Regions from separate parts of the Homo sapiens genome. Here regions 2 and 3 are each linked to region 1. The links come from fine-mapping of genetic effects on gene expression. A gene starts in region 1. Each other region holds a variant in brackets. All regions are shown on one strand. Distances are between the middles of the regions. Region 1 holds the start of DNAJC9 (DnaJ heat shock protein family (Hsp40) member C9). Region 2 overlaps MCU (mitochondrial calcium uniporter). Region 3 overlaps MICU1 (mitochondrial calcium uptake 1).

Region 1 (2,827 bases):
GCAGGTAGGATTATCTCCGTTTTACAGATAGGGAAGCTGAGGCCTAGAGGTGGAAACTTGCCCAGTGATGTAAGATTCATCTCCCGGTTATGCCCTCCTGGAAAGCCCTTCCCAACATATTATGTTGTCCATAGAGGGAAAAATGAGCAAAGACAGATGGCTTAACTCTGGTGTGTGACTAAGATATAGGAAATTTATAGAGGAGGTTCTATCAATGTGCCGACTTACTTTGTGTTTTATGTTCTGAGAACGATTACCAGCCATCTCAAATTCTGTGGTTGTCAAAGCTCCCCTGGGGTTGTTGCTGGTTGGCCCCCACTTGCTTTGAGACTTTGATGCCAGGGCAGGTTGAGAGGAACTGACTTCAGCTGAGTTTGATCTTGGATCTGGGAAAGAGAAATGCTTTGAAAATCACGGCAACTCTGGGAAGTTTAAAAGATATTAATGTATCCTGGAGAGTTTGAGGCTTTGCAGAAACTTATTGGCAGAGCAGAATGATTCTGAAAAATGCTACATCAGTGAGGGGATATTTGATAAGGTATTTTCTGCCAACTCGGGTATTCACTTAGCATTGTTTATCCTTTAAGATATGTATACACATACTTCCTCTGTGAGTTTACCCTACTAACAAAGTTTTATCCCCAGCCTCAACCTTGCTTTGGGTCTCCAGGCCCAAGTTTCTCACCATCTCTTGGATGATTGCTCCAGCCCACTCTGCTGCCACCTGGGATCCAACATGTTCAAACCCAGCTGTGAACTTCACAGAGTATTAAAAGAAAGAGCCTTTGCTTCAGCAGTTTATGTTATTAAGACGGAGGCTTGGGTCATGTTATCTCTCTCCACCAATGTGTAAGGTGAAAGTCCTATTAGGTAAGAGTTTTTGGAAGACCCGTGTTTTGTGCTTTTTGGGTTTCAGTATAGGGTTTTTTCCTACAGGGCTAGAGGGAAAGTACCCCAGCATTTCCAACCAGTGGGGTGCAAAATTATTTGGGTCTACAGCTTTACCTATTCCTTTCAAGAACATTTTTGAAAAAACACATCTGTTAAGTTGAACCATGTGTAACTGCTGAATGCTGATGTTTGGCCGTTTTCTACTTAAAAAAATAGGCCAGCAGTTTGTAAATTCAAGCTAATATATGAACTTTTTGAAAAAGTTGTTCTTGGACACTAAAAGGTAAGACGGACGCCAGATTTCCAGAGCAAGGGGAGGAGAGACCCGAGCAACATCACTTCCCTGAAGACCTAGCTCCTGCGCGCGGCCGGGGACTGTGACTCCACATGCCGGCGTTACTTACCCGGGCCCGCGCCTGACTCGCCACACCTCATTTTGCGGCCGCCGTAAAGCGCGGATGCGCGGCGTGGCCACGCCCCTTCAGTGCTTGTGACGCAGGCGCCCTGGGCTTTTTGGGCGCGAAAAAGAAGCAGTCCTGGGTTGTACCCGGCGCAGCTGGGAGCGGCTGCTTCCTCCGGGGTCGTATCTCCGCCCGGCATGGGGCTGCTGGACCTTTGCGAGGAAGTGTTCGGCACCGCCGACCTTTACCGGGTGCTGGGCGTGCGACGCGAGGCCTCCGACGGCGAGGTCCGACGAGGCTACCACAAGGTGTCCCTGCAGGTACACCCGGACCGGGTGGGTGAGGGCGACAAGGAGGACGCCACCCGCCGCTTCCAGGTATGCAGGGTCCCGCCCCGAAGCCGACCGGCTGCGCGGGCCTCCCCCTAGCCTTTTGGCTACCGGGCCCCGCCCCGGGGGAGCGCGCTGAGCTCCGCTTGGCGCCTTCTGATCTTTATTTCTCGCGCCGCCGTTTCGGTGGGAGGAGCAGGGGTGATTTACGGATACTCTTTGCCCTCAGATCCTGGGAAAAGTCTATTCCGTTCTCAGTGACAGAGAACAGAGAGCAGTGTACGATGAGCAGGGAACAGTGGACGAGGACTCTCCTGTGCTCACCCAAGACCGAGACTGGGAGGCGTATTGGCGGCTACTCTTTAAAAAGGTAAAGGACTCTGGAGGTTTCTTTGTGACTGTTACCATCATTCAATCAACAAACCTTTATTGACTGCCTCTAAGATCTTGTATTTTGTGTTAATTTTGTAGGAATTAGGAATTTTGAGTTTGGCCTTGAAATACAGATACACGCACGCTTACTGAAACGGGCTTTAAATTTCCTGTTAATGTGATTGTTGCACTGAAAAGGGCCGATTTATTTTTTTTGCCGGATGCGCTTTATTTTACATATCCAAATGTAAGTCCTGATTCCGGATCACCTCTCACTCTTGGAAATTTCACTTAAATTTCCCTTCCCTGGTCCCTAGTTAGCAGTTAATGAAGATTGGATTTAAAAAGGAGGACTCCGGAGAAGCTTAGGCATAGAAAATCTGGTTCAATAATTTCAACTCAAGCAACTGTTGTATTGCAGCAATTCAACACCCAACTCTAGTTTTACTAACGTACGTTTTATTTAAAGTAAAATTCCCAAAGTTAAAGCAAATCTCCTTTATCATCAGATATCTTTAGAGGACATTCAAGCTTTTGAAAAGACATACAAAGGTTCGGAAGAAGAGCTGGCTGATATTAAGCAGGCCTATCTGGACTTCAAGGGTGACATGGATCAGATCATGGAGTCTGTGCTTTGCGTGCAGTACACAGAGGAACCCAGGATAAGGAATATCATTCAGCAAGCTATTGACGCCGGAGAGGTCCCATCCTATAATGCCTTTGTCAAAGAATCGAAACAAAAGATGAATGCAAGGAAAAGGAGGGTAAGATTTTGAATACTGTGGATTTATATTTTGACTGCTTCCAAAAAGGATTTGAGAGTATTTACAGCAG
Region 2 (2,500 bases), 490 kb after region 1:
CTAATAAAAACACAAAAAATTAGCCAGGTGTGGTGGTTCACACCTGTAATCCCAGCACTTTGGAAGCTGAGGTGGGTGGATCCACTTGAGACCAGGAGTTCGAGACCCACTTGGGCAACAAAGCGAGACCTTGTCTCTACAAAACATGTAAAAGAAAACAATTAGCTGGGTATGGTGGTGCACACCGGTAGTCCCAGCTACTCAGGAGGCGGAGGTGGGAGGACTGCTTGACCCTGGGAGATTGAGGCTGCAGTGAGCTATGATCATATCACTGCACTCTAAGCCTGGGTAACAGAGAGAGAGACTCTGTCTCAATGAAAAAAAAAAAAAAATGGTTTCAATTGGGCTAATATCCCTAAAGCAAGTACTCTGGCACAACCTTTGAAAACTCTTATCTGGCAAAAACAACAACAACAACAAGGGTTGAAGAGATGCCATATTTAGATGATCATTTATCTATTTATGCTTCCGCCGTTCAAATTGCTTTGAATTACAGGCTACAAGTGCAAACTCATAGTGATCTAATATTAATAACAATAACAACAGTTAGCACTTAAATAGTACTTAATGTATTTACTATATTTATGCGCAAGGCACTATTCTAAATGCTTCATGTATTTAACTCATATAGTACTCACAACTCATTGGATAGGTATAATTGTTCCCCACTCTACCATCAACATTACACACCAGGCTTAAAGACATAAAGTAAATTGCCCAAGCTGGCCAGGTGGGGTGGCTCATGCCTGTAATCCCAGCACTTTGGGAGGCCAAGGCGGGTGGGTCACCTGAGGTCAGGACTTCAAGACCATCCTGATCCACATGCTGAAACCCCGTCTCTACTAAAAATACAAAACTAGCTGGGCATGGTGGTGCATGCCTGTAATCCCAGCTCCTTGGGTGGCTGAGGCAGGAGAATTGCTTGAACCCGGGAGGCAGAGGTTGCAGTGACTGAGATCATACCATTGCACTCTAGCCCAGGCAACAAGAGCAAATCTCTGCCTCAAAAAAAAAAAAAAAAAAAATCTCAGGTTCACATATCTAGTAAGAAATAGCTAGAATTTGACCCCAGGTAGTCTGAGACTACAGTCCATGCTTTTAACCACTATACTTATTATATTCCCTTCCTAACTTGATCAAGGTCACACAGCTAACTAGGTAGTGATACCAGGAATTCAATACAAATCTTGAGCCACATAAAAACACAGTTTGTTATGAAATATGTGAGGTTATAACTCTGTAGAAGTGCTAAGAAATCTTTAACATCATCTGCAAAAAATGTCTGCAAACTGGGCAGTATGGGACTTGAGTGTCATTTGTTGGGCTTTTTGTTGTTGTTGTTTTTGAGGCAGTGTCTAGCTAAGCCCAGGCTGGAGTGCAGTGATGCACTCATGGCTCACTGCCACCTCAACCTCCTGGGCTGCTCATGCCTGTAATCCCAGCAGTTTGG[G/A]AGGCTAAGACAGGTGGATGACCTGAGGTCAGGACTTCAAGACCATCCTGATCAACATGGTGAAACCCTGTCTCTGCCTCCCAAAGTGCTGGGACCACAGGTGTGTGCCAACATGCCTGGCTAATTTTTTAATTCTTTGTAAAGACAGGGTCTATGTTGCCCAGGTTCATCTCAAACTCCTGGGCTCAAGTAATCCCCCTGCCTTAGCCTCCCAAAGTGCTGAGATTACAGGTGTGAGTCAGCATGCCCCGCCTCCAGTGTCATCTGTAATTCAACCAACCTGCATGATACATAATAGAAGGAGGAAAATACTGATGATCAGAAAATCTGGCTGAAGTCTTAACTTTGCCATTAATTGGCAGCATGCTATTAAACAGAATATAAGCTCCGGACTCAAATAGACCTGGATTGAAATCTGGGCTTTAAGACCTTTGGGTAAGGGTGGCTCAGTTTGTGCACAGTACAAAGGCATCAAGGAAGCAAAATAAGGCTGAAATTCTGCCCATGTTCAGCTCACAGATGCTGAAATAAGTGGCATCTAAGCACAGGTCCCCAAGTTACTGCTTCGGGTGGTGTGCCAGGCCAGAGGAAGTTTGGCTTCCTCATTGGTTCACCACAGGGGGTAACTTTCCTAATTCAAACAGAAGTCTCTCATAGCTAGTGGTGGCTCTGCCTACTCTGCTACTTACCATATAACAATTGCTACTTGCAATATAATCTAGGGTAAGTTACTTAATCACTCTAAACCTCAGTTTCCTCATCTGGGAAATATGGCTGAAAACAGTACTTACTTCATAGTGTGGGTTTGTGTGTGTGTGTGTTTTGTTTTTTTGTTTTTTTTGGACAAAGTCTTCTTGCTCTGTCACCCAGGCTAGAGTGCAGTGGCGTGATCACAGATCACTGCAATCTCAATCTCCCAGGCTCCGGTAATCCTCCCACATCATCCTCCCAAGTAGCTGGGTCCAGAAGCGCATGCCACCACCACACCCAGCTAGTATTTTGTATTTTTTATAGAGACAGGATTTTGCCATGTTGCCCAGGTTGGTCTCA
Region 3 (2,500 bases), 830 kb after region 1:
TATTTAGACCATGCTTATTTTTAAAGGTTGGTCCAGATATTGATTTGACTTTAATTATCTATCATGATAGGTGAATTCATATTTCATTGTGAGTTTACACTTAAAAGCAATAAGGGGCATTGGAGGCATCTCCCTTGAAGGAAGAGTATTTGAGCATTGGCAGGAGTTAATTTAGGATCTGAAGACCTTGCAAAAGAGCTCTAAAATGAAAGGACAAATTTTGTCAGATGATGAAAATCTGCGGTGTTAAATTACTTTTGGCCCAGAATTTCTAGCCTGTGTTAGCAACGAGATTAAGATTGATTGTCCTCTCATGTTGATTAAATAGTTTGTGAACATAGCAATTAACTAAAGTGAGTGTCAAGGAAGGGCCTTTGCTCCTAAGGTTACGAGTCCATCTCTCTAGGACCATTTCCTATAAAAGGGGAATCACCATCTGCTTTCTAATTGCTTCTTTTATTCCACTTTGGATTTGTTAACATGAAAATGTAAGTTTTCATTTGGCTGACATTAATCAGTTTCTGTGTGAGGTTCTGTATCAAGGTATCAAACAAGACCTAAGAGATTGAAGGTCCTAGTGGTGGTATTAAATTTTTGCATATAAATTAATGACCATGCAATGTTTCACAGCCATTTTTCTCTTCCTTTCTAACAGCCTTGTTAGATACTGTATTTTTGAGAATATAGAGACAGAAAGAGAAGTTAATAACCCATTCAGAGTCTGGTCTAAAATCCAAGGCTTCCTATTCCAGATCTTGTCTTTTCCTTAAGAAAGTGCTGTTTCTCCTAATCATACTCTTCCTGTAAAGCAGTGCTTCTCTACTATAGGATCACTTGAGGAATTTTTAAGGAATGTGGTTGTTTGGGCCCTCTTCAAATCAATTAAATCAGAGGCTCAGTAGGTGGGTCCAGGCATCAGTGTTCTGGGGTTTTCTTAACCCTCTGCATGAGAAATTCCAGAAGTGTTTCTTAAAGGGTGATATGGTTTGGCTGTGTCCCCACCCAGATCTCATGTTGAATTGTAGTTCCCATAATCCCCATATGTCCTGGGAGGGAACAGGTGGAGATAATTGAATCATGGGGCAGTTTCCCCCATCCTGTTCTCATGACAATGAGTTAGTTCTCATGAGATCTGATGGTTTCATAAAAGGCTTCCCCCTTCACCAGGCACTCATTCTTCTTCCTGCTGCCATGCGAAGAAGGATATGTTTGCTTCCCCTTCTGCCATGACTGTAAGTTTCCTGAGGTGTCCCTAGCCCTGCAAAACTGTGAGTCAATTAAACCTCTTTCCTTTGTAAATTACCTGGTCTCAGGTATGTCTTTATTAACAGCATAAGAACGAACTAATACAAAGGGTCCCCAGGTAAATCTAATGTGCAGCTAGGCTTATGAGCCACTGCTCGAGAGATGCAATGCTCCATCAGTGTCTCTAGCTGTTTTATCTCTAAGTAATAGTTTGAAGAACTGGGGAACCTGCCGTGCTTGACAAAAATTACTCTATTGATGCTCTGAAAAACCACCATGTTTTTATTTAACA[AAG/G]AGTTTTCTGAGACTTCATAAATGTAATTCACAGTGGTGATCCTCTATGTTTATGAATGCAGAAGCTACTAACTAGTAACTTCTTAAGGATGAAATTGAAAATTATAACTCAGTTCAATGGCAGACATTGCTGTGTGCAAGACACTAAGCCAGGTGCTGTGAAAAAGACCTTCCCTTATCCTTACAACTATATTTCTTTTTTTTTTTTTTTTTTTTGAGACGGAGTCTTGCTCTGTTGTCTAGGCTGGAGTGCAGTGGCCTGATCTCGGCTCACTGCAAGCTCCGCCTCCTGGGTTCATGCCATTCTCCTGCCTCAGCCTCCTGAGTAGCTGGGGCTACAGGTGCCCACTGCCACGCCTGGCTAATTTTTTGTGTGTTTTTAGTAGAGACAGGGTTTCACCATGTCAGCCAGGATGGTCTCGATCTCCTGACCTCGTGATCCACCCGCCTTGGCCTCCCAAAGTGCTGGGATTACAGGCGTGAGCCACCACACCCAGCACAACTATATATATTTCTTAAGTCTGTAATAGTCTAGTAAGAGAAAAATATGTATGCAAAGAACTCTGTAATTCTATATTCACATTTATATTCAATATTTATCGATCAGCCACTATGTGCCAAGCAGTCTTCTAAATACTGGGAATGCAGTAGTGAGCACACCAGTGTCTGCCTCATAGAACTTAGCATTCCTACTGGAACGAAACAGATTTTAAACAAATATAAAGCAAGGTAACTCACTTAGCTTTGAGCTTCTTGAGAGCAGTGCCTTATTCATCTTTGCATGTCCTCTGTATGGTGGCGGTAAATGCTTATCAAGTGCAATGATAAATATGTTGAGTACTCTATTAAAGGTATGAGATCTTTTTGAAGCACTAAGGAGGAAGATTAGAGCCAGCTGAAGAGACCGAGTAAGATTTCTTAGAGGAAGTACAATTCGAACTTGGCCTTAAACATGGAGTAG

What was found.
Region 2: its variant is fine-mapped to the expression of DNAJC9 in whole blood (TOPMed, PIP 0.96).
Region 3: its variant is fine-mapped to the expression of DNAJC9 in whole blood (TOPMed, PIP above 0.99).

The regions. Positions count from the first base shown.
Region 1 is chr10:73,245,852-73,248,678 of GRCh38, reverse strand. DNAJC9 (DnaJ heat shock protein family (Hsp40) member C9) reads left to right here and starts at 1,424. Exons shown (of 5, transcript NM_015190.5): 1 at 1,424-1,669; 2 at 1,851-1,991; 3 at 2,503-2,757. The coding sequence starts at 1,490. DNAJC9-AS1 (DNAJC9 and MRPS16 antisense RNA 1) reads right to left here and starts at 1,312. Exons shown (of 4, transcript NR_038373.1): 1 at 1,296-1,312; 2 at 229-386. RefSeq lists enhancers at 1,178-1,517, 783-1,982 and a silencer at 1,718-1,867.
Region 2 is chr10:72,753,672-72,756,171 of GRCh38, reverse strand. All of the region lies in intron 1 of MCU (mitochondrial calcium uniporter), which reads right to left. LOC124902450 (a long non-coding RNA gene) reads right to left here. Exons shown (of 2, transcript XR_007062189.1): 1 at 1-2,500. Among named protein-coding and RNA genes, the nearest start is that of MIR4676, 34 kb to the right of the region's middle. The variant G/A (reference allele first, on the strand shown) is at 1,451.
Region 3 is chr10:72,416,709-72,419,208 of GRCh38, reverse strand. The region is part of intron 9 of MICU1 (mitochondrial calcium uptake 1); the gene reads left to right. Among named protein-coding and RNA genes, the nearest start is that of DNAJB12, 63 kb to the right of the region's middle. The variant AAG/G (reference allele first, on the strand shown) is at 1,538.